Homo sapiens: one gene and its partners. The protein of the gene in region 5 purifies or fractionates together with the protein of the main gene of each other region. This does not show direct contact. Each region holds a gene or a part of one and is shown on either strand. Other genes may lie near its edges.

The links.
Region 1: the proteins of DEFB109B (region 5) and CHST10 purify together in Homo sapiens (affinity purification with mass spectrometry; one large-scale study listed by BioGRID and IntAct). This does not show direct contact.
Region 2: the proteins of DEFB109B (region 5) and COL6A2 purify together in Homo sapiens (affinity purification with mass spectrometry; one large-scale study listed by BioGRID and IntAct). This does not show direct contact.
Region 3: the proteins of DEFB109B (region 5) and SEC62 purify together in Homo sapiens (affinity purification with mass spectrometry; one large-scale study listed by BioGRID and IntAct). This does not show direct contact.
Region 4: the proteins of DEFB109B (region 5) and ARSK purify together in Homo sapiens (affinity purification with mass spectrometry; one large-scale study listed by BioGRID and IntAct). This does not show direct contact.
Region 6: the proteins of DEFB109B (region 5) and TCTN1 purify together in Homo sapiens (affinity purification with mass spectrometry; one large-scale study listed by BioGRID and IntAct). This does not show direct contact.
Region 7: the proteins of DEFB109B (region 5) and CEMIP2 purify together in Homo sapiens (affinity purification with mass spectrometry; one large-scale study listed by BioGRID and IntAct). This does not show direct contact.

The regions. Positions count from the first base shown.
Region 1 is NC_000002.12:100,400,669-100,404,168, reverse strand, and holds part of CHST10 (carbohydrate sulfotransferase 10), read left to right. Parts: intron 1-1,513; coding exon 1,514-1,605; intron 1,606-3,500. UniProt on the Homo sapiens protein: Catalyzes the transfer of sulfate from 3'-phosphoadenylyl sulfate (PAPS) to position 3 of terminal glucuronic acid of both protein- and lipid-linked oligosaccharides.
Region 2 is NC_000021.9:46,101,112-46,104,611, forward strand, and holds part of COL6A2 (collagen alpha-2(VI) chain isoform 2C2 precursor), read left to right. Parts: intron 1-3,500. UniProt on the Homo sapiens protein: Collagen VI acts as a cell-binding protein.
Region 3 is NC_000003.12:169,987,307-169,990,806, reverse strand, and holds part of SEC62 (translocation protein SEC62), read right to left. Parts: intron 2,568-3,500; coding exon 2,448-2,567; intron 1-2,447. UniProt on the Homo sapiens protein: Mediates post-translational transport of precursor polypeptides across endoplasmic reticulum (ER). Proposed to act as a targeting receptor for small presecretory proteins containing short and apolar signal peptides.
Region 4 is NC_000005.10:95,565,101-95,568,600, forward strand, and holds part of ARSK (arylsulfatase K precursor), read left to right. Parts: intron 1-897; coding exon 898-1,027; intron 1,028-2,789; coding exon 2,790-2,949; intron 2,950-3,500. UniProt on the Homo sapiens protein: Catalyzes the hydrolysis of pseudosubstrates such as p-nitrocatechol sulfate and p-nitrophenyl sulfate. Catalyzes the hydrolysis of the 2-sulfate groups of the 2-O-sulfo-D-glucuronate residues of chondroitin sulfate, heparin and heparitin sulfate.
Region 5 is NC_000008.11:7,311,540-7,315,521, forward strand, and holds the start of DEFB109B (beta-defensin 109B precursor), read left to right. Parts: upstream 1-1,182; 5' UTR 1,183-1,306; coding exon 1,307-1,364; intron 1,365-3,982. UniProt on the Homo sapiens protein: Has antibacterial activity.
Region 6 is NC_000012.12:110,624,129-110,627,628, forward strand, and holds part of TCTN1 (tectonic-1 isoform 1 precursor), read left to right. Parts: intron 1-2,233; coding exon 2,234-2,364; intron 2,365-3,500. UniProt on the Homo sapiens protein: Component of the tectonic-like complex, a complex localized at the transition zone of primary cilia and acting as a barrier that prevents diffusion of transmembrane proteins between the cilia and plasma membranes.
Region 7 is NC_000009.12:71,748,014-71,751,513, reverse strand, and holds part of CEMIP2 (cell surface hyaluronidase CEMIP2), read left to right. Parts: intron 1-1,128; 5' UTR 1,129-1,140; coding exon 1,141-1,471; intron 1,472-3,500. UniProt on the Homo sapiens protein: Cell surface hyaluronidase that mediates the initial cleavage of extracellular high-molecular-weight hyaluronan into intermediate-size hyaluronan of approximately 10-5 kDa fragments.

The DNA of each region.
Region 1 (3,500 bases), on a different chromosome or scaffold from region 5:
CTCACTCGCGTGAGATGTTACCTAATTGTCCCAAGGGACCTGGTTAGGTTAGGATCCTGAAGGTGGATATCCGCCAGCTGAGTTCTGGATGCAGGATGCGAGCTGGCACCCAGCATCTTGCCAGTGCACAAGGACGCTGGGCTGAAGCATCAAGAGCATTTACACTCAGAGCCTGCCCCTGCAGGCGTCAGAGAGGCCCTGGGCTGGGGTGGTGTAGGCCTCTCCCCTGGAGCCTGCCCTTCCAGCACTGTGCTTTAGAGAGTGTGTCCCGGAGCCTGGATCTTGGGCAGCACAGGAACCCCTCTAAGCTCGTGGCCATAAAGGGCTTCTCACATGTTGGAGTTTATTTCACACACGTTCACGGTGTTTTTGATTATGAACCAGAAGCCCATTGTGAAGTGTCAAGACCAGGAAATAACAGACACGGCAGTGTCCACGGTGGGGAGTTCCATTTCCTGGAAAGTGCGTGGAGAAGCCTTGGCCTCAGTGCTCCCGGGCTGCTCCTTTCAGCTCTGTCCTCTGGGACAGGGCCAGCCTCAGAACCCCCATCAGTGGTGTGCATGTTCTTCTCACCTACCTGCCTTTCCCGGTTTCTCCTGCCACTGGAGCCCCTAGGAAGAGCATGGTTGTCGTGAGTTGCTGTTTAAAGCAACACTTACTTTTTTTAGTGTTACAGTTTCTGTTCAGCTCAGCAGTGGAGCCAGTGATATTTGTGGCAATGATTTATCCTCAGTTAGCAAATTTCAGTATCATATTGAACTAGGATCAGGTGTTGTAACTAGACTTTCTCATAAGAAAATAAATCCCCCTCAGCGAAGGGAATGTGATGGAATCATATGGCAAGACTCAAAATGATGCCCTTGTGGACCTGGTTTGTGTTTGTAGGCGCTGGTTTTTCCTCTCCTGGTTGACTTCCTCATTGGTTCTGAGCCGCTTGAGGGCAGAGCCTGTGATGTGAAGGTCTCTGCAGCCTTGACCATCTTTGCATGTACTTATTTGCCATCTGCGGATACTCTCCAGTGAAATGTCTGGGTGTATCGTACCTATTTTCTAATTAGATTGGTTGGTTTTTTAATTGTTGAGTTTGAGGATTCTTTATATATTTTAGATAGGAGTCCTTGGTCAGATAAGTGGTTCATAAATATTTTTTCCCTATCTGGAGCTTGTCTTTTCCTCCTCTTCAAATGGGCTTTCACAGTGTAGATTTTCTCTTTGGTTGTTTTTTAAAAAGATTGATGGTTTTATGTTTCACATTCAGGTCTGTGATCCACTTTGAGTTCATTGTTGAATAAGGGGTGAGGTTTGGATCAAGGTTTGTTCCGTGTGTGAATGTCCAGGTGCCCCAGCACCATTTGTTGGACAGACTGCCCTCCTCCGCTGAATGGCTTTTATGGCTTTGTCAAAAGGCATTTGGGCATCTTTGAGAGCTTCTATTTCTGGGGCCTCTGTTCTGTCCCATCCACCTGTGTGCCTTTTCCTTTTAGAGAAGACATTCAACCTCTCTGTCTTCCAGTGTACAGTGCCAAACAGGAGTTTCTGTTCCTGACAACCATGCCGGAAGTGAGGAAGTTGCCAGAAGAGAAGCACATTCCTGAGGAACTGAAGGTGGGCACAGCCAGGCCGTGGTCCTTGTCCTCTTGAACACGGCACCCTTGTCGCGGGGAGCTGGCCTTCCCCTGTGGCTGGTTCCGCTTGTCATCACGTCTGCGTTAGAGCCTTTTCCTGTGTTACTTCTCCATGTTAGTTCACCTTGTTAATTTCCATTTGGGAGAGGCACAGGTCACGTCTATTTTTGTGCCCCTCACAGAGCTCTGTGCATCAGGGCTGCTCTGTCACTGTTGGTTGTGCAGCATTCCTGACCAGCTGAACATGAGCCTTGCCTGGGGAGCCGAGAGTATTGGGCAGGGTCAGGAGGAAACCAGAAGTGGGAGAAGACATCTCACCCAGTCATGGGGTTTTAGAGTGAAAGGGGGCCCTGGACAGCAGAACAACTAATTCAGCCTCCAAATTGTATGGATGAGAGAACTGAGCCTAGAAAAAAGGTGGATCCTCCACAGTCCCATGGAGTTCCTGGCGGAGCCCAAGGCTGCTGACTTCCACCCAGCCCTTGCTGGCTTGACATTCTGGCTCCATGGCTCTCTGCAGGCTTCTTGTGCACCTAAATTCCTGATCATTCCCTAGCTGGGATGAGGGGTGCACTCTGGAAGGCCTCTCACTTCGTAACCCCCATTCTGGATCTAGAGGGTTGAAGTTGCAATTGTTCCAGAAGGAATGAAATGGGTACAGCGAGCCCTAAAAATATTTTTAGCCCAGAATCAAGCCGTAGAGGTTGGGACAGCTCCTATCCATGGGTCACAGTGTAAGGATGATAAATTAGAACTCAATAAACATAGAAAACATACACCAGTCAGTAGAGTGCTGCTGGAGGTTACTTCTCGTAGGACATTGATGGAATGGAGGCCAAGTTTACAGAACTCTGAGACAGCCTAAATGTTGCTTTTAGGTTGAGGCATCCCAGGGTAAGAAAATAATTTGGATGGGGTACAGAAACGAAACCAAAAAATCTTATGGGAAATAGGAGAGTGGCTTTAATAGGATGGATTTAATAGGAAATCAAAGTTACATGGATAAAAACAAAGGTAGGGTAAGCCTTTGGCAAAGTGTCGCAACAAGGTTCCCTCAAGGATGCCATACCCTGTGAGGAAGAGGGTGGTCATCTTGGTGCTCCCTCTCCGGGTGGAGGGTGCTCCCGGAGAGATTGCCAGCCTGCAGGAGTCATTGCAAATAAAAAGACTGCGCCTGAATGTGCTTTACAGTTTGCAGTGTACTTTACTGGGTTTCAATCTCATTGGTCTTCCGAGCCGCCCTCTGAGGTATATTTTTATTCTGTTTGCATTTGGGAAACATGAGGCTCAAGGAACTGTGCTCACTGGGTCAGTATCCCCTGGACAGCAAGTTGTGGGCCTGGGCTTTGAACTCAGTGTCCTCTGTGCCCCTCTCTTACCCGCTGCCCCAGTCATTCTCATGAGACTCAGATGGGAGGTGAGGGAAGTGGGGGATGTCAGAGGTGATGTCCGCTGAGGCCACATGCCGTTAGGTGACACCAAAACTCAGCATGTGTCTTCTCACAAGAAAGGGGATTTATCAACATGATCAGATTCTGTAGCTCACCTTTAAAAGTTTATTTTGGCCAGGTGCGGTGCCTCACTCCTGTTATCCCAGCACTTTGGGAGGCCGAGGCGGGCAGATCACCTGAGGTCAGGAGTTCAAGACCAGCCTGGCTAACATGGTGAAACCCCATTTCTACTAAAAAATACAAAAAAATAGCCAGGTGTGGTGGCATGTGCCTGTAATCCCAGCTACTCGGGAGGCTGAGGCAGGAGAATCTCTTGAACCCAGGAAGCGGAGGTTGCAGTGAGCTGAGATCGTGCCATTGCACTCCAGCTTGGGCAACAAGAGCGAAACTCGGTCTCAGAAAAAAAGTTTACTTTGTGCATGGT
Region 2 (3,500 bases), on a different chromosome or scaffold from region 5:
TGAGGTGGTATCTCACTGTGGTTTTGACTTGCATTTCCCTCATGATTAGTGACGTTGAGCATCTTTTCATGTGCTTGTTGGCCATTTATATATCTCTTGGGAGAAATATCTGTTTAAGTCCTTGACCTATTTTTGAATCAAGTTGATTGTTTTTTGTTGTTGAATTTTAGGAGTTCTCTGTATATTCTGGATATTAATCCCTTATTAGATACACAGTTTACAGATATTTTCTCTCATTCTCTGGGTTCTTTTTACTCTGTTAATGATGTCCTTTCACTAGATAGATGCAAAAAATGTTTTTAAATTTTGGTGTAATCTGATTTATCTATTTTTTCTTATTGTCATACCCAAGAAATCATTGCTCAGTCCCATGTCACGAAGGTGTTACCTTATGTTTTCTTCTAAGGGTTTTAAAGTTTTAGGTCTTAAAACGTAAAGATCCATTTTGAGTTAATTTTTGTATATGGTATTAGGTAAGGGTCTAACTTCATTCTTTTGCATGTGGATATCTAGTTGTCTCTGCACCGTTTGTTGAAAAGACTGTCTTTATCGAATGGTCTTGACGGCTTGATTGAAAGTCATATATGCAAGGGTTTCTTTCTGGACTCTCTGTTTTATTCTGTTGGTCTGTATGTCTGTCTTTATGCCAGTGCCACACTGTTGATGACTGCAGCTTTGTAGTAAGTTTTGAAATTAGGACATGTGAGTCCCCCAGCTTTGTTCTTATCTTTCACGATTTTTTTTTTTTTTTTTTTTTTTTTTTTGGCTATTCGAGGTCCCTTGAGATTCCATCTAAATTTTAGGATTTATTCACTATTTCTGAAAAAAAAAACAATCACTGGGATTTTTATAGGGATTACATTAAACCTCTAGATCAATTTGGGTGGTATTGACATCTTAATATAGTAAGTCTTCCAATCTATGAACATGAATGTCTTTTTTTAAATGTCCTCTTCAATTTCTTTCAGAAATGTTTTGTAGTTCTCATTGTACAGGTCTTTCACCTCCTAAGTCAATTTTTAAGTATTTTATTATTTTTGATACTATAGTAAATAGAATTGTTTTCTTAATTTCCTTTGGATTGTTCATTGTTAGTGAATAGAAATACAAGTGATTTTTATGTGTTTACTATGTATTCTGCTATTTTGCTGAATTTGTTTATTAGTTGTAACAGTTTTTGTGGAATTTTTAGGGTTTTCTACATACAAGATCATATCATCAGTGATCAGAGATAATTTACTTATTTCTTTCCAATTTGAATGCCTTTAATTTCTTTTTCTTGCCCAATTGCTCTGGCCAGAACTTCCAGTACAGTGTTAAATAGAAGTAGTGAAAGCAGGCATCCTTCCTTTATTTCTGACCTTAGAGGAAAAGCTTTCAGTCTTTCACCACTGAGTATGATGTTCACTGTGGCTTTTTCGTATAATATGGCTTTTATTATGTTAAGGTTGTTTCCTTCTATTCCTAATTTGTTGAGTGTTTTTATCATGAAAGGGTATTGAATTTTGTCATATGGTTTCTCTGCATCAACTGCAATGATCATGTGTGAGTTTTTTTTCCTCCTTCATTCTGTTAATGTGTATTACATTGATTGATTTTTTTTTTTTTGTATGTTGAACTATCCTTGCACTCCAGAAATAAATCCTACTTGGTCAATTCATTAAATTCCATTTAATTGCATCAAATTATACCAAATTTAGTTTACTATTAATAGTATTTTGTTTAGGATTTTTGCATCAATGTTCATAAGGAAGACTGGATTGTAGTTTTCTTTTCTTGCAATATCTTTGTCTGGTATTGGTATCAGAGTAATGCTGGCCTCATAAGAATGAGTTAAATAGTGTTCCCTTCTCTTCAAGTTTTTTGAAAATTTTGGGAGGGTTTGGTGTTAGTTCTTTATGTGTTTGGTAGAATTCACCAGTGCAGCCATCAGGTCCAGAGGTTGTTTGTCAGGAGATTTTTGAGTATTGATTCAATCTCCTTACTAGTTATGTCTATTCAGATTTTCTATTTCTTCATGATTTGATTTTGTCTTGATAGGTTTTGTCTGTCTGGAAATTTTTCCATTCCATCTGTGTTATTCAAATTGTTGACATATAGTTGCTTATAGTACACTCTTATAATCTTTTTTATTTCTGTAGAATTAGTAGCAATGTTGCCACTTTCACTTATAATTTTAGTAATTTGAGTTTCTTCTTTTTTTCTTAGTCTAGAATCTAGCTTAAGGCTGGTCAATTCTGTTATCTTTTCAAAGAACCAACTTTTGTTGTCATTGATTTTCTCTATTATCTGTCTGTTCTCCATTTTGTTTATCTTTGCTCTGATCTTTATTTTTTCCTTCTTTCTGCTAGCTTGTTCTTTTTCTAGTTCCTTACATTGTAAGGTTAAGCTCCTATTTGAGACCTGTCTTTTTTAATATAAGCATGTATAGCCATCAGTTTCCCCCTTAGCACTGCTTTCACTGTCGAACAAGTTTTTAAATTTGTGTTTTCATTTTCACTCATCTCTAAGTATTTTATAATTTCCCTTGTGATTTCTTCTCTGATCCTTGGTTATTTAACAGGGTGTTGTTTAATTTCGTGATTTTTTAAATGTCCTTGTTGCTGATTTTTAACTTTACTCCTTTGTGGTCTGAAAAGATATCTTGTATGATGTAGATCTTTCAAAATCTATTGACACAGACTTTGTTGTTGCAACTAACCCCGTCATTGCAAGCCCTTCTCCGTCTGGTTGAAGTGACTTCCAGGAGATTTAAAGGGCTGGCACCCTTTTCTCCCTTCATTTTTCTCTTTTTCCTCTTTTGAGACGTAGACATTGAAGACTAGCACATTCAAAAGCAACCATATATGTGGAGAAAATAAAAAAGTCATTGCACATGCTCAGGGGAAGTCACGGGCTTAGAAAAGACCTAAGAAGACCTTAAGTTTATACTTTATGCTGATCCTTAGCACAGAGACAGCAACAATCAAAATTATAAAAACAAGAAAAACCAGCAAACTCTGGGGAAGAAAGAGATTTTGATTTCACAAGGCATACAAAGAAACTTTCCTATTTCAAAGGAAAAAAAAACAACAGAAACTGTCACTGAAAAAGACTTGGTGGTAGATCTACTAGACAAAGGCTTTGAAAGAACTATCTTAAAGATACTCAAATAACTAAGGGAAAATGTGGAGAAAGTGAAAGAAAATGTAGGAACAAATGAAAATATCAATAAAAAGCTAGAAATTTTAAAAAGAAACCAAAGGGAAATTCTGGAGCTGAAAAGTACAATAACTGAAATTTAAAATTCACTAGAGAAATGCAAAGGCAGATTTCAGCAGGCAGAATAAAGAATCAGGGAACTTGAAGATACAAAAATGGAAATTATTGAGTCTGAGGAGCAGAAATAAAAAGATTGAATAAAGGTGATCAGAGCCTAAGGGGTCTGTGGGATACCATCAAGCAAACCAACATAAACATTGTAGGAGCCCCAGAAGAAGAGAGAGCAAAGGGAGCAGAGA
Region 3 (3,500 bases), on a different chromosome or scaffold from region 5:
TTCACAAGAATATAAATATTCTGAAAGACTCCTGTACACATTAGAATCTTTCGTGGTATAAACGGAAAAGGTAAATATGCTTAAAATTATGATTTAAGAATAAATTCCACTGATAAACAGAGATAATGAATTTAAGGAGGCTGTACATTTTTTTCTCCAATTATGATGCAATGATAGGTTTTACAGGATTGTAAGACAGATGATTCATAATATGAAATCTTGTATCAAACCAAAGAAAAAGCAATATAGAAATGGCACTAACCTAATTTCTTATCACATACAAATGGTATGGCAAAATGTTCATGTTTTACAGTTTTTCGCTATGTGGCACTAGATTACCGAGAGTGAAAAGGGAAGAATTATGGGGAAGCTGTGACATGTACTATAATAACATTCCTATGCTAAAAGCGACAGATTTTAGAAAACTGCCAAAGGTTTTATTTTAAATGGCATTATTAATAATGCATATTCAAAGAAACACCAGATATAATTGTGACCAATACATAATATTTCAAGACCCTGACTTTAAAAAAAAAAATTAGCTAGGCATGGCAACATGCTCCTATAGTCCCAGCTATTCAGGAGGCTAAGGTGGGAGGGCTGCTTGAGCCCAGGAGTTTGAGGGTACAGTGAGCTATGATTCTGCCATGGTACTTTACCCTGGGCAACAGAGCAAGACCCTGTCTCCAAAAAATGAATATATATAAAAATATATTTCATATAAATATGAGATATCATATAATATATATGACATATCATATGATATATATTATATGATATATATGATATATAATATTATGATATATCATATATCTATATATCATATATATTCATATATAATATACATGATATATATTATATGCGATATACATAATATATATAAAGACTTCAAAGAATAATATAAAAGAAATATCTAATTATTTGAAAGTATATTTGGAATTGCATTTTCTAAGAGAATCAAAATAAAATGTTGGGTTTGTTTCCTGGTATAATTCAGAAGACTATTTGGTTCATAATGCATATTTAAATCCACAGCATATTTACAATGAAAATTTATTTAAAGAGACTACTGAAGAAACAATATTTTAAACAGCAAAACTACATAATAACCATAAACTATTGTGAACACTGGTTTAATTTAAAAATAAGCAAGTAGAATAATTCTATTCAGTGGAGCTAAACCTTTGCTAAAAATTTCCAAGGAGTTTCTAAATTTCAGGAATTTGAAAGGCAAAAAGCACCAATTTTATTATGTCTAATGTCAGATCAAAGTTTATGACTTTTCCTTCTTGATGCAGGTATTACACTGACACTAAATTCAAACAGGCTTAGATATTGTTTCTTGGCCTACAAATGTGCCCGTGTTCCATGCAAAACCAGCAGGGGATTTTTCTGCTGCCAGAGGTTACCAAATCAGAGGAAGGAGGCTGGGCGTGGTGGTTCACGCCTGTAATCCCAACACTTTGGGAGGCCAAGGAGGGCAGATCACCTGAGGTCAGGAGTTCGAGACTAGCCTGGGCAGAGTGATACCCTATCTCCCCCACAAAAAGCCAGGCATGATGAAATGCACCAGTACTCCTAGCTACTTGGGAGGCTGAGGCAGGAGGATTGCTTAAGCCCAGGAATTCAAGGCTGCAGTGAGCTATGATCTCACCACTGCACTTCAGCTTGGGTGACAGAGCAAGACCCTGCCTCTAAACAAATAATCTATGAAAGACCCCAATCATCCAGAAATGCGGAAAATTCATTTACTTATGTTTTCCTATTTGATTTTTAAAACATTAACTCCTTATTGCATCTAGTATTTTGGTACTTGGGTGAAAATTATTGATTTTTCCCAAAATGGCAAATCAATTGTTTAGAATCATTTATTAAATATATGCATAGATTATTTAGATGTTGCATTTGTTCTAAGTCAAAATTAAAAAATGTTTTACTGAAAGTATTATGTCTAATAAATGATCTACCACTGCAAAAATATTAAACGCCTCTGCCATAACTAATTTTTAAAGCACATCTATTTGCAGATTAAGATATAATAATGTATGGTATATTTCAAAATAAGTAAATTTCAAATGTCTCACAATAAATGATAGGCAAGAAAGGTGATCAATATGCTAATTATGTTAATTAGCTTGATTTAAACATTCCACATTGTACACATACACCAAAACATCACATTGTACCCCATAAATGTATACAATTATGATCTGTCAATAAAAAATAATCTTATTAAAAAATTTTTTTAAAGATGTATTAAATCCTTTTTCTGCAGACAGAACACATCTTACCAAGCCTGAGTTTTGAGATTTGACTCAGAAAGTAGTACCATATATTTCTTGATTTACCTCCATTAATTTTTCTTAAGCTTTACTGAAGCTCCAAATTACAGTCCAACTGCTCAATACCAACCTTCTTGAGGTCAATTTTATAATAACAATACTTACCAACAGCAAGGAGAAGAATACTGGCTACAAAACAGCCTGCACCCACACTGAGGTAATAAACACCTACTCTCATTTCTGCTGGCCAAAGGGGGAAGAGGGTGGCCGCTATTACTGCAATCACTGGAACAAGAAATGACAAAAGTTAAATTTTAGAATAAAAACTTAAATGGTATGGCTGCACTAACAGAAACATATCCCTGGGGGAAAAACTGAGAAACATAAACACAGTGAAATATAAAATTGCCATTTTTATAGGTAAAAAATGGTCAATTATGAGCAATTTCATATTGTTCAACCTAACATTTTATACTATTCTTAAACTAGTTTTTATTAGTGTAAATTACATATAATTAGAAAAAAATGCTATGTAGAAATTCAAAACTGTTGCCTCCTTAATTTATCAACTGCCCCCTTTTTCAAGCTATATCTACTTTATTTAAAAAATACTAAGATATTTGCCTACTAAGTAAGGGAGCTAAAAGAAACAACAGAACAACAAAGCCAACAAAAAATGATTTCCAAGACCCCTCTCTGGAGATTCTTCTTCTGGGGTGGAGCTCTGACATCCACAGACTGAAAGATTCCCCAGGTGATTTCTGCTACAGATGTATTTTTTGGTGCTTAGGGAAACTGTTTACAAGTGTCTCCAGTTTTTTTGCAAGTAAAGTGGGGACACAAGAAAGAATTATAAGAAATTAGAAGCCTGGTTATTAGGTCTTTAGAATAAGACCAGGATTAAAATTCTAGCTCCATCACTTATAAGCTATGTAACCCTGGGCAAGTTACTTAACTCTTTTGAGGCTAAGTTACCTTATATTTAATAAGTCTCTTCCTATTCTTCAAAGGTTGTTGTGAGGATGAAATGATATATTGTACGCAAAATATCTAGCAAAGTGACTAGTACTCTTATTATAAAAGAGTTATTTTGCTTTTTGTTTTCTGAAACAGAGTCTTACTCTGTCACCCAGGCTGCAGTACAGTGGCATGATCTTGGCTCACGACAGCCTCGACCTCCTGAGCTTAGGTGATCCTCCCACCTCAGCCTTCTAAGTA
Region 4 (3,500 bases), on a different chromosome or scaffold from region 5:
ACATATAATAGATAGAACTCCAGGACTGGAACATTCTTTTTTCTGTTCTTGCTCTTTACCAACGTGAGTTCTTCAATTCCCAGTTCATCTCCAAAATGCATATCTCCAACCCAAACATCTCCTAATCTTCAGACTCACTTATCAAGCTGCCTAATTTTTTTTTGTAGAAACAGGGTCTCCCTGTGTTGCCCAGGCTGGTCTTGACCTCCTGAGCTCAAGCTATCCTCCCACCTCAGCCTCCCAAAGTGCTGGGATTATAGGCATGAGCCACCACACCCCACCCCAGCTGCCTAATTGATATCACCACTTCCATCTCACAGATATCTCAAACTTTGTATGTCCTTTAAATTCTTTGAATAGCTGGATCCTGTTCATTCTTTAGGTCTCATACATCCCAGAGAAGGCTTCCCTGTCCACACTGTCTAACGTAGGTCTCTCTTGTCCTTCTGTATCTCGGATTTTTTTCAAAGCACACGTCATAATTTGTAATTATTCATAGTTTATTTGCCAGTATACTTTTTGCCTCTCCCACTAGACTGTAAGCTTCATGGGGCCTAAGACTCTGTTTTATTCACCATTGCATCCTCAGATTTTGCAGTGTCTGGCACATAGTTAAGTATTCAATAAATACTTAGTCAGTTCATCATCCCCCAAAAGAACATTCCAGGAAGTCCTTTATTTACTGTAGTTAAATGAATCCAAGTGTAACGCTGCACTGAATTCTAGCTATTTATGTACCAGATACTGGAAACACCCTCTATACTTGTTTTGTTTTTATCTTTGGAGGATTCTTAAAATCATATTGAAGTCTTCTGCTATTGTAAATTTTATGGTTAAAGAAAATAATTTTCTTCTTTGGTAATGTAATCAATGCTAATTAAATTTCTTTATTTCCAGGATGGAAGGTTAACATTTCATCCAGGAAGTCAGGTAGTGAAACTTCCTTTTATCAACTTTATGAAGACACGTGGGACTTCCTTTCTGAATGCCTACACAAACTCTCCAATTTGTTGCCCATCACGCGCAGGTATGAACATCCTTAATATGAATGGGAGAAAGTGGCTACACACTGAAAATATATTCACAGTTTAAAAGATTATACCTAAAAGTAGAATAGTTGTATTTGGCCTCAATAAAATTGTTTTAATATAAAAGATGTGCATTTTAAGGTATATATTGGCTATTGGGGTTGTTCAAATTGTATTTTTCAAGAGTAGGAATTTTTATCATTTAGAAAGGTGTCTAGTTCATGTGTTACCGTTTTATTTCCTTGTGACTGGGGACTAAGAATCTTTTGGCCATCCAAGAAAATGAGGGAATACTCATATTTCCTAGAAGAGTTCTGTTTCCAGGGAAATTTTTCAGTAACGGTATAGGTAATTGGGAGGACTTCTATGAACATTAGAGTATACCATAAAGTAGTTACAACTTATATTCAGATTTACCTGAATTTTTTCTTATTATTTCAGATTACATACTTTACCTCTTTCTTTCCGTCTCAATTCACTTTTATCCCAAGTCAAATTGTTCACTTTTATTATAATAATTTAACAAATAGGCATAGTTTTATTGGCAGAATGTCAGTGACATTAAGCCATGAATAATTAACAAATAGGAAAAAACTGCCATTTTTATAAATTCTATCTATTGTCTGATGGTTGTTTTCCTTTTCCCCTGTCTTCTGGTTTATGTTTGTTGCCTTGGAACACATAAATGGCACTCAGTGATTTGGTTTGTCTGTAAATGAGATGATTTTCTCTGTGATTTGAGTTATAACTTCTTTCACCTATATTTTCAACACTAACAACTATATTATTACCAGTGATGAAAAGAAACTAAACTATATTGTAAATGATATTTCAATAATGAAGGACCAGGCATATTAAAAAACAGTTTTGTTAACTGTAAAGTAGAATGAGCAGTGGGCTAGGGTGAGACAATGACCTGGATGCTAATCCTCAAGCAAGTCACTCAGTCTTCTTATCTGCAAATTGCTGTGTATACTGTGTACCTCACAGGGTTGTTCTGAGCATCACATTAAATAACGAATGAGAAAGTGGCCAATGAACCCTAGATGTCTCAAAATGTTAGATGTTGTTTTTCCTGGAAGAAGTATATTTTGAAGAGTAAGCAAGGTCAAATAATTTGTCAAAGACCACTCAGTAACTGGTGTTATTGGGATTCAAACCCAGGTAATCCCCCATCCCACCTCTCAGAAAACATCTTGCTAGATGAAAACAGAAAGCTTATTCTAACTTTCTATTTATGTACACAGAAATGGGAAAAGGAAAAAAAGTGTTTATTGAATAAACAATCATAGTTGTAGAAAGTGAGAGATAAGGCATAACACACTACGTTTTTTGTGGAAAGCCAGCAAAAGGACAGGGAATAAGGGAAGATCCTTAAGGATGTTGGGGAAATGAGATCTGTACTTCAATTGTCTGATTTAGAAAATTAACCAATAAATACTTAGGGATTGTTTTTATGATTGAAAGAGGCCTCTAGTCACACATGCTTTGTATTTAATTCCAGCTGTATTTACCTTAAGTAACTTAAGCACTAAGCGTTAGTCAACTCATCTGTAAAATGGAAATAGTAACTCCCCACAGAGTATCACTCTGATAAAATGAGGTAACAATCAGAAATGTTTGGTAAGGCACCTAATCTGGGTACGTCTTACTGCAGAGCATAAGCTCTTCACTAGTGGACTGCTCTCTCAGAGTAATTGTCCTAATAGTTAAATTGTTAAGCTTTACCTTAATCCCAATTCCTTTTTTTTTTTTTCTCAGCAATGTGGAGTGGCCTCTTCACTCACTTAACAGAATCTTGGAATAATTTTAAGGGTCTAGATCCAAATTATACAACATGGATGGATGTCATGGAGAGGCATGGCTACCGAACACAGAAATTTGGGAAACTGGACTATACTTCAGGACATCACTCCATTAGGTAAAAATAAAACAAAAATAATCATCATGGACTGCCCTCTGCCATAGCGTGTACATGTACTCTTTTTGACTTTAATTTTTTTATTTTTCCACAAAGGTGAAAGTAAATCTCTTAATCCCTTCATTGTGTTAATTAGGCTGAAATTTTAGCTTTCTTTCATCTTCCTAAAACATTAAAATGGCTAATATACTAGTCATTTTGTTTTTCTTAAGCATTAAAGGTCTATAAATAGTGTTTGTAAACTCGTTTAGCCCACGCTTTATTTTCATTGAATTTCCTTTAATGGCTACTGTATTATTAATTTTAAAATCTGTTTTTAAAACCATAGCCTTCTTGCTGCTTTCGTTGGTCAGTTCTCTCTAACTTGAGTCTATTGTAACTTTTTTTTTTCTTTCATTTTACTAAGTCCTCAAAAACCAGGCAGCCAAGCATAGTGGTTAAGAGTAGAGGTCAAGAATCAGATTGCCTGCTTTTGAATTATAGTTTCTGTTTACTACTAGCATTGTAGTAGTCTGATCTTGGACACATTGTCTAAATGTTGACACTGTACT
Region 5 (3,982 bases):
TGTCCTTAGGTAGACACTGCAGCAGAACTGTAAAGTTTTTCTGGAAGTCTGGGGAAGAGAGGAGGAAACAGAGAAGGGGCAAGAGGAGAAAATAGAATGAGGCTCAGAATACCAAGCCTTAGTGCTGTCCCTATCGCCTTCCTCGCTAGATCACTGGGTGATCCTGGGCAAGTTTCTTCCTTTCCCTCAGCTTATTTCCTCATCTGTAATGTAAGTGACTAGACAAGATAGCCTATGATGTTCATTGTAACTCTAACTTTTCCTTCCCAAAGCAAATAGCTGGAAAAGACACTGTGCTTACAATATGCAACAAATAAAAACAAAAGATTTTTAAAAACCCCTAGTGTAACTTGAATTCTTACAAATAAGCAATGGTACATCATAATTTTACAAAGCTCTTTTGTGATTTCATTTTTAAAATCAAGTCAAGTTTTATTTTACTTCATAATAAGATAATGGAGATAAGTGTTAAATGGGTTCATGAAGGAATGTTTGTAAAAGATGCAATAATCCAAAATAGGTAATTGTTATATTAGTAGTTCCCTTTACTTGGGTGGGGGGGGGGAACAGATAGAAGAGTGTTAGGAAAAGCTTCATAAAGTGGATTATATAGAATGTGCTTTAAAAGAGTTTGGTGTTTTACTGAGTGGGGAAAGAGCAATATGGGGAGTTATTGTTCAAGGGTTAAAGCTATAAAAAATGAATCAATTACAGAGATAGGCTCCAAACCATAGTACTTATAGTTAACAATAAGGTATTTTGTATTTAACAATTTGTTAAGAGGGTCGATCTTAGGGGTTCTGACAACAACAACAACCACAACAAAGGGACGTAGGAAACATTTGGAGGTGATGGATATATTATTACCTGGATATTGGTGTGGTAACAAGATAATACTTATGTGCAAACTTGCCAAACTATATCCATTAATTATGTACTTTTTGTGTATAACAATTTTACTTCAGTTCCTACTATATTGCCTGGCAAACAATAGATGTATAAAGTGAGATCAATGATTATTGCATATGCATGTCAAAAATAATAAAGAAAGCAGGTGACAATAAAGACATCCTGAATCTTTGGGAAATAAATAGCATTCACCTGCTTTCTCATCCATTGAGATATCACCACCTTTATGTACTTATGTGTCCCTGGAAGTTTCCCGTGGGAGATTTAGTTATTCTCTTTTCGTTAGGCTCTACTGACCAAGAACAAATCACAGACTCAGAGAGCATCATAAAAAGGCCTAGACCCACGATGCCCAGAGACTCCAGGCTCAACCCACATTGATGCTGGCCCTTCAGCCATGAGACTCCATTTGCTTCTCCTTATTCTCCTTCTTTTTTCAATTCTCTTATCCCCAGGTAAGTTGGTAGCTCATTACTATAAGGTTCTGCAGATGAGAATGCTATATCCCTGGCCAGACAAGAACCTAGAATCAGTCCTGTGGGTTCAAGAACCTAATATTTACAGCTTCACTAGGATTATAATAGGGAAAAATAGAAAAGAGACTCATTTAGCAGTATGTCCTCTTGATAAGATTCCATCCATGTCTTTTGACCTAGTGAGTGGATATAATAATGGATGCTGCTGAAATTCAATCCTGTCAGATGAAACTGCCTACATGTAAATTTCCATGCCCCACCAAGCACCTCAAGATACAAAGTAAGGATACAACAGAACATGACCTCAATGAGATGCCTTTGCGGGACATGGAAATTTATATGCAGGCAGTTAGATCTGACAGGATTGAATTTCGGTGGCATCTATTATTATATTCACTTAATAGGTCAAAAGAGATGGATGGTATCCTATCAATAGGAGCTACTCTAAATGGGTGTTGACAAATCTGAAGGTTTTATTCGAAGAAACAGAAAAACTATAATCCTAGAATAAATGAAAATTATATGAGAGACTTTTCAAAATAAATTATGTTTTATGTGGTTATGAATAAAAAATGATTTTCAAAGTGCAACTGAAGAGTAGAAAGGAGAGTTAAAGGAACTTCAGACAAGTGAATTAATAAGGAGCAAAGACACCAACAAGTGCTGCTCAAGGTATATTACAGGTAACCACACAGAAATGGGTAACATAACTTTCAATACAAAAATGGCTAAAATTTACTGGGCTAAGCATGCATTTTGGGGGCTTTTGGAAAAAAAAAACAGCATAATAAACCTAAAGAAGATAAAGGGAAAATTATAAATACAAAATATAAATTAATGAAACAAATGAGAAAAAACAGTATTTTAAAAAATGTTTTTCAAAAAGTCTAATACACTTTATAATAACCTGGCAACACTGAACAAGAGAAAATGAGAACATGCTTAAAATAACTATTGCAGGAATGAAAGGTTAATATCAAAACAGATGTTTCAGAGATTCAAATAATTTTTAAATTTGTGTATATTCCGTCTTCACTGTGTACTTGGGGATTTTCCTGTTGCAGTTCACTATATCATGACTGTGTCATCAATTTTGATGCTAGTAAATTATTACCATCAGCATACAAATATGCTGTTGTTTTTCTGATCTAAGAAAAAGAATTTCCTTGCTTTTCTTCTGATGCCAGCTGTCCTCCCCTTTTTTGCTCTACTTTTCAGCAAAACATCTTAGAATAGTTGTCCATATTCTCTGTCTTCAATTCCTCTCCTCTCATTGTTTCTTAAATATATCCCAATCAAGCTCTCATTGTTTCTTAAATATATCCCAATCAGGCTCTCTCCCCCTTTTTCGATCATGCTATTGACACCACTTTTGTCAAAGTTATGAATAATCTCCACATTGCTAGATCCAATGATCATTTTTCACTACAACTTTAATCGACCTATTAGCAGCATTTGACACAAATAATCACTTCCTTCTTCACAGTATACTTTCTTCATTTGGCTTCCAGGACGGCTCATTCACTTGATTCTCAGCCTGTCTCACTGGAGCTACCACTTCGGCTTCCTTTGTTTCTTCCTCATCTTTTGCTTCACACCTCCTACAGGAGAGCTCCAGAGCTCAGTTCCTGGTCCTCTTCTCTTCTCCCTCACCACACACTCTTTGGAGGGGCTCAGCAAGTCTCATCCCTTTCAATTCTCCTTTTGGACCTCCTTTTGAACTCCAGGCTTATAATAAATTATCCAACTGCATAACTGGTATATCTACTTGGACACTTGATTTCAAAAGTAATATATATCCAAAACCAGACTCACGATTTTCCCTCAGAAACCTCTACATACACATTTTTTCTCTTCTTGCAGAGTGCCATGGTCAGCATTGGAGCCTCTCTTAGCTTTCCTGTCCACTTTCATCCTCAGCAAGCCTCTATCTCTGCACCTCAAGAATCTCTCAGGGCTCCCATCCCTTGCCCAACCTCGGGCAGTAGCTGCCACACACTCAGTGAAAGACCAGAGAAACTACTTCTCTCAGCTACCGGCCCTGCCCTGCCTTCAGACCTCATCATGCCTCTCTTCTTATGCACCTGTGAGAACAGAGAGTGAAGGGGGGATTCTCTCAGCTCCCCAACCCACTCCCCAGTAACACAGGGTTTTCCTCGATTCTCACAGTGAGACCTTTACCTTGCTCTGACCTCAAATTGCACCAGTTCCTACATGCCTGTCCCTCAAAAGTGTCTCAGGTAGTTCTCCTGCTCTCCATCTGATCTTACCTAGGAGCACACAAGATAGGTCATGAAAAAACCATTAGTGGGGCCACACGCGGTGGCTCACGCCTGTAATCCCAGCACTTTGGGAGGCCGAGGCCGGCAGATCACGAGGTCAGTGGCTAACACGGTGAAACCCTTTCTCTACTAAATACAAAAAATTAGCCGGGTGCGGTGGTACATGCCTTTAGTCCCAGCTACTCGGGAGGCTGAGGCAGGACAATCACTTGAACCCTGGAGGCGGAGGTTGCGGTGAGCCGAGATCGTGCCATTGCACTCTAGCCTGGGCGACAGAGTGAGACTCCGTCAAAAAAAAAAAAAAAAAGAAGAAGA
Region 6 (3,500 bases), on a different chromosome or scaffold from region 5:
CCAGGCTGGTCTTGAAATCCTGGCTTCAAGTGATCCTCCTGCCATGGCCTCCCAAAGTACTGGCATTGTAGGCGTGAGCCACTGTGCCCAGCCTCTATGTTTTTTTGAGATAGGTCTTGCTCTGTCACCCAGGCTGGAGTGCAGTGACACGATCATAGCTCACTGTAACCTTGCTCCTGGGCTCAAGCAGTCCTCCTACCTCAGCCTCCCAAGTAGTTAGTACTACAGGCATCTGCCAGCATGCCGGACTAATTTTTTCTTTGTTTTTTGTAGAGATAGGGGTCTGTGTTGCCCAGGCTGGTCTTGAACTCCTGGCCTCAAGTGATCCTCCTCAGCCTCCCAAAATGCTGGGATTACAGGCATGAGCCATGGTGCTTGGCCTGTATCTGTATCTATAGCAAATTGATTGGGATTTGTCAAATCTGGGATTGGTTGAAGACTTAACTCATAACTTCTTTTTTTTTTTTTTTTGGGAGAGAGAGTCTCACTCTGTCGCCCAGGCTGGAGTGCAGTGGCACGATCTTGGCTCACTGCAACCTCCCAGGTTCAAGCAATACTCCTGCCTCAGTCTCCCCAGCAGCTGGAACTACAGGCACATGCCACCACGCCTGGCTAATTTATTTTTGTATTTTTAGTAGAGACAGGGTTTCGCCATGTTGGCCAGGCTGGTCTTGAATGCCTGACCTGAGGTGATCCGCTCACCTCGGCCTCCCAAAGTGCTGGGATTACAGGCATGATCCACTGTGCCTGGTCCTGTACCATAACTTGTAAGCACTAAACCTTCCAGACGACTGATCTCAGGTGATCCACCCGCCTCGGCCTCCCAAAGTGCTGGGATTAGAGGCATGAGCCACTGTGCCTGGCCCTGTACCATAACTTCTAAGCATTAAACCTTCCAGATGACTCCACATTTTCTTACTCTCACAGTCCTTTGAAGACAGCTTTATTCTAAAGACAAGGAATTTGGATCTATTCTGGGTACTTTTAAACAATCTGAAGGTCTGCAAAATTTTATCTAATTGATGCTATCAGAGTTTGTAAAGTTCACTGACATAAAAATTATACCCTGATCTACGTTCTTGACAAGATTTCCTTAAAGGTTATTCTACTTGTCTCAATTTTGTTTTTTTCTGTTAGAGGAAAAAGTTTTAAATGCCAAGCTTTTTCTTTTTTAAAAAGAGATGAGGATCTCACTATGTTGCCAGACTGGCCTCGAACTCCTAACCTCAAGTGAGCCTTGCATCTTAACCTCCTGAGTAGTTGGTAATACAGGTGCATGCTACTGTGACTGGCCCAAATGCAAAATATTTCAACACAGAATAAACTAAATAAAAATGGATTCAGCCAGCTGTGGTGACTCATGCCCAGCACTTTGGGAGGCTGAGGCAGGTGGATCATCTGAGGTAAGGAGTTTGAGACCAGCCTGGCCAACATGGTGAAACCCTGTCTCTAATAAAAATACAAAAATTAGCCAGGCATGGCAGTGCACACCTGTAGTCCCAGCTACTCGGGAGGCTGAGGCAGGAGAATCACCTGAACCCAAGAGGCAGAGGTTGCAGTGACCCGAGATCGTGCCACTGCACTCCAGCCTGGGAGAGTGAGGCTACATCTCAAAAAAAAGGATTCAATTTTTTTTTTTTTTTTGAGATGGAGTCTCACTCTGTCACCAGGCTTGAGTGCAGTGGCGCGATCTCGGGTCACTGCAACCTCTGCCTCTTGGGTTCAAGCGATGTTCGTGCCTCAGCCTCCCTAGTAGCTGGGATTACAGGCACCCACCACCACGCCCAGCTAATTTTTGTATTTTTAGTGGAGATGGGGTTTTACCATCTTGGCCAGGCTGGTCCCCATCTCCTGACCTTGTGATCCGCCTACCTCGGCCTCCCAAAGTGCTGGGATTACAGGTGTGAGCCACCGTGCCCAGCCGGATTCAATTCTAATATGCTTTCTTTTTTCTTTCTTTCTTTCTTTTTTTTTTTGTGAGACAGAGTCTTGCTCTGTTGCCCAGGCTAGAGTGCAGTGGCGCGATCTTGGCTCACTGCCAGCTCTGCCTCCTGGGTTCATGCCATTCTCCCGCCTCAGCCTCCCAAGTAGCTGGGACGTCATGCTTTCATAAATATCCTCCACGTAACTGTTAACATAGTACAGTACAAGCATCTGACAGTTTTAAAATAATTTTGCTAAGATTGTGTGCTTATGTCTTGTAACTTTGTATTATTATTTTTTTAATTTTCAGGGGCGACAGCCAGTTTTGTAGTCAAAAAGCAGTCATCTATTCATTGAATTTTACAGCAAACCCACCTCAAAGAGTATTTGAACTTGTTGACCAGATTAATCCATCTATTTTCTGCATTCATATTACAAACTGTAAGTATTTGACATTGATATATTTTGTGAAGCTCTGGAAAATTTTTCTCAAAGTTATGGAAAAATGTGTCAGATTTATTTTATAATTATGATTATGGTTTTTTTGAGACAGAGTCTTGCTCTGTCACCCAGGCTGGCGTGCAGTGGCGCAATCTCGGCTCACTGAAACCTCCACCTCCCAGATTCAAGTGATTCTCCTGCCTCAGCCTACTGAGTAGCTGGGATTACAGGTGCCTGCCACCATGCCTGGATAATTTTTGTGTGTGCGTGGTTTTTTTTTTTTTTTTTTTTTTTTGAGACGGAGTTTCGCTCTTGTTGCCCAGGCTGGAGTGCAACGGCTCAATCTCGGCTCATCACAAATCCTCTGCCTCTTGGGTTCAAGTGAGTCTCCTGCCTCAGCCTCCCAAGTAGCTGGGATTACAGGCATGGGCCACCATGCCTGGCCAGTTTTGTATTTTTAGTAGAGACGGGGTTTCTCCATGTTGGTCAGGCTGGTCTTGAACTCCCGACCTCAGGTGATCCACCTGCCTTGGCCTCCCAACGTGCTGGGATTACAGGTGTGAGCCACTGTGCCCAGCCCTATTATTACTATTTTTTCTTTCTTTCTTTTTTTTTTTTTTTTTGAGGCAGAGTCTCACTCTGTTGCCCAGGTTGGAAAGCAGTGGCACGTTCTCAGCTCACTGCAACCTCTGCCTCCCGGGTTCAAGTGATTCTCCTGCCTCAGCCTCCCGAGTAGCTGAGATTACAGGTACCTGCCACCACACCCAGCTAATTTTTTATTTTTAGTAGAGACAGGGTTTCACCATGTTGGCGAGGCTGGTCTCAAACTCCTGACCTTAAATGATCCTCCTGCCTCGGCCTCTCAAAATGCCGAGATTACAGGTGTGAGCTGCCTTGTCCAGCCCTCAGTTAGATTTAAAGCAATTATTCTGTTTTGCTATATGTATAGTGTATATCTTTAGAGACCATTTCACAGGTAATAGGAAGTAACTTTATAGACCTGTGGGCATGCACATTTTCTTTAAAAGTAATTATGATTGTGTAGTTGTCTTTCGAAACCGTATACTTATCTTAAAAGTGTTTATAATATGCAGACATACATAGGAATCTAGGTTTCTATATATACATGTGTTTTT
Region 7 (3,500 bases), on a different chromosome or scaffold from region 5:
TTCATGAGAATCACTTGGGGAGCATTTAAAAGCTGCAAATACTTAGATCCCAGGGACAGCAATCCTGATTGAATTGTTTAGCCGTGGTGCCCTGAGCATTCACCTTAGCGGGTGATTACACTATGCAGCCAGGGTTGAGAAGGAGTGACATTAGAACACAAGTAATGAAGGTGATTGTCAACATGGTTTATTAGATCAGGGATGTAAGCTGACTTGATATTTTCAAGAAGTCATTATGATGGTTACCAGGGGCTGGGAAAAATGGAGAGTTACTTAATGGATATAGAGTTTTTGTTTGGGATGATGAAAAAGTTCTGAAAATGGATAGTGGTGATGGTCACACAACTTTGTGAATGTACGTAATGCCATTGAATTGTACGCTTAACATAGTTAAAATGTAAGTTTATGGTATATTTAACACAATTTAAAAAGTACTTTAAAAAAACCATTTATGATTCATACATTCCAGCTGGATACTGGGGCTCACGCCTGTAATCCCAGCACTTTGCAAGGCTGAGGTGGAAGAATCACTTGAGCTCCGGAGTTTGAGACCAGCCTAGGCAATATAGCAGGATCCCATCTCTACAAAAAATTTAAAAATTAGCCAATCATCGTGGGATGTACCTGTAGTCCTGGCTACCCGGGAGGCTCAGGCAGGAGGATTGCTTGAGCCCAGGAGTGCGAGACTGTAGTGATCTATGATCATGCCACTGCACTTCAGTCTGGGCAACAGAGTGAGACCCTGTCTCTAAAAAATAGAAATTAAAGGCGAGTTGCGGTGGCTCACACCTGTAATCCCAGCACTTTGGGAGGCTGAGGTGGGTGGATCACCTGAGGTTGGGAGTTCGAGACCAGCCTAACCTACATGGAGAAACATTGTCTCTACTTAAAAAAAAAAAAAAAAATTAGCTGGGCGTGGTGGTGCATGCCTCTAATCCCAGCTACTCGGGAGGCTGAGGCAGGAGAATCACTTGAACCTGGGAGGCAGAGGTGGCGGTGAGCCGAGATCATGCCATTGCACTCCAGTGTGGGCAACAAGAGTGAAACTCCATCTCATAAATAAATAAATAAAAGAAATTAAAAAAGAATTTACACATACTGAAGCTTAATTTTTTTTTCTTTTCACAGTAACAGTGTATCATGTATGCCACTGATTCCAGGGGACACTCCCCTGCTTTCCTCCAACCTCAGAATGGAAATAGTCGTCACCCATCTGGCTATGTTCCAGGGAAGGTTGTCCCATTGCGTCCCCCTCCTCCTCCAAAGAGTCAAGCTTCAGCCAAATTTACCTCCATCAGACGAGAAGACCGGGCAACCTTCGCATTCTCACCTGAAGAACAGCAAGCCCAGAGAGAAAGTCAAAAGCAAAAGAGACACAAAAATACTTTCATTTGTTTTGCTATTACTAGTTTCTCATTTTTTATTGCACTTGCAATCATTTTAGGAATATCCTCAAAATATGCTCCAGATGGTAAGTGTGTGTATATGCACATAGAACATATTCTAGAAGACAAAAGAGGAGGAAATAGTAGAATACTTAAAAAAAAATTTATCTTAAGTTGGCCCTAGCTAACTAATATGTAGTTAGGTAATACGAGGTGTCACTTCTTATGAATGAGAGCAATTGTTCAATAATCTGTTGGAAATGATTAAATGGTTGCTCTTCCTGTCCATTGTGCCACTTTGTTGCAGCACTCAGGGAGGTCTTGGAGTACCTCTTTTGGAAATGCTTTGAGGGCCTTCACTAAATTCTTATGGTAGGTATGATTTTTGGACTGCTGCAATTTTTTTTTTCTTTTTTTCTTTTTTTGAGGCAGTCTTGCTCTGTTGTCCTGGCTGGAGTGCAGTGGTGTGTTCTTGGCTCACTGTAACCTCCGCCCCCTGGGTTCAAATGATTCTCATGCCTCAGCCTCCTGAGTAGCTGGGACTACAGGCAAGTGCCACCACATCTGGCTAATTTTTGTATTTTTAGTAGAGACAGGGTTTCACCATGTTGGCCAGGCTGGTCTCGAACTCCTGACCTCAGGTGATCTGCCTGTCTTGGCCTCCCAAAGTGCTGGGATTACAGGTGTGAGCCACCATGCCCGGCCGCAAGTTTTTTTTTTTTTAGTCATACGTATAGTGAACTATATTAGATTTTTTTGTTTAAGTAAGTGACTAAAAATAATAATATTTGTGTTTGTGGCTTGAAATGGGCTTGGGAAGCAGTTCCAAAGGAAAAGTTTCAAATATTTTTGAGTAACAATATATATCCTGGAAGGGAAGCATCCTTTAGGATATATAAGTTCTGACACCTTTGTCTAAAAATCAGTCATTACTTCATAGTTAAATATTATGCAGGGAGATTTTAATTTCTTAAATGGTATTTTCTTTTCAAGTTAATGATATATCAATATTTTGAAAAGTTTTGAAGAAGATGGTTGCAAGTCAGCCTTATTGGAATACCAACAAAGAATTGCCTCATAAAAGAATACCATCCATCTGTCTAAAATCAAAGGACTCGGGGCTGTGAAGAGAGAAGACTCTAACAGCCTGGACTGGGTACCATATTTGTCTACAACAGATTTTTGTCAAGTTAAATGCTTCCTTAAGTGGCTGTAACAGTTCAGAGGCATTTTACTACTTATAAGACTTACAAATACTTTATTATTTAGTTTTCTTGGGTGCTTTCAAGGGATTTTTAAAATTTTAAGGTTCTGGGAGAGGTAGTGCTAGTACTTCTAAGAAAATAAACCTCAAATGAGAGAGACATGCACATTAATATCCTTATGGACCAAACAAGTAGACCACATTATGAACTTATAACATTGATTTCCATTGCATGCGGTATGACTTCCTCTCTCCTTTTCCCAGCAGAATAACCAAGTTCTCTGTGCTGATTCATAATAACCAAGTTCACTGTGCTGATTCATACTTCCCAACTCTTCTGCAGTAAAGGGATGCTAGACCAGTGGGAAATCAGAGCTGAAGTCTATGGCTTTGATTGGTGTTTTCATATTCCATCTAAAACAGGGCATTGCTGATATGGTTCCTTGAACCAACATTCTTTAGTTTCACATTTTGGCAGTGTAAAGTGCAGATCATCAGTGGAAAGATCTGGTATGCTGAAATATTTCAGGGTCAGCTTGACTGTGGTTATTGCTGTTACATAACTTTGATAATATACTCACTGCTCTTCAAGTGGGTAGCTGGGAAGGTGGGGTTGGCTGAGCTACTTTTCAGTGCTTTGTACAGACTACACATTTTCTCATTAAGTGCATTTTACTGGAAGGAAACAGACTGGAATTTTTGGTGATGGTTCTAATGAACCATGCTCTCCTGGGAAATAATTAAAAACAATTAAGAGAAATTATATAATCATTGAAGTAGGCTCCAGATCTCAAAAGACTGGATTTCCTTCTTTATAGCTGGGTACAGTGCTTGTTATAAAACTATGGAGAATTTCAGCTAGATGTTGTATGGGAAGAGGGAGGTAGAAAAGTTAAGGAATCCTCATTATT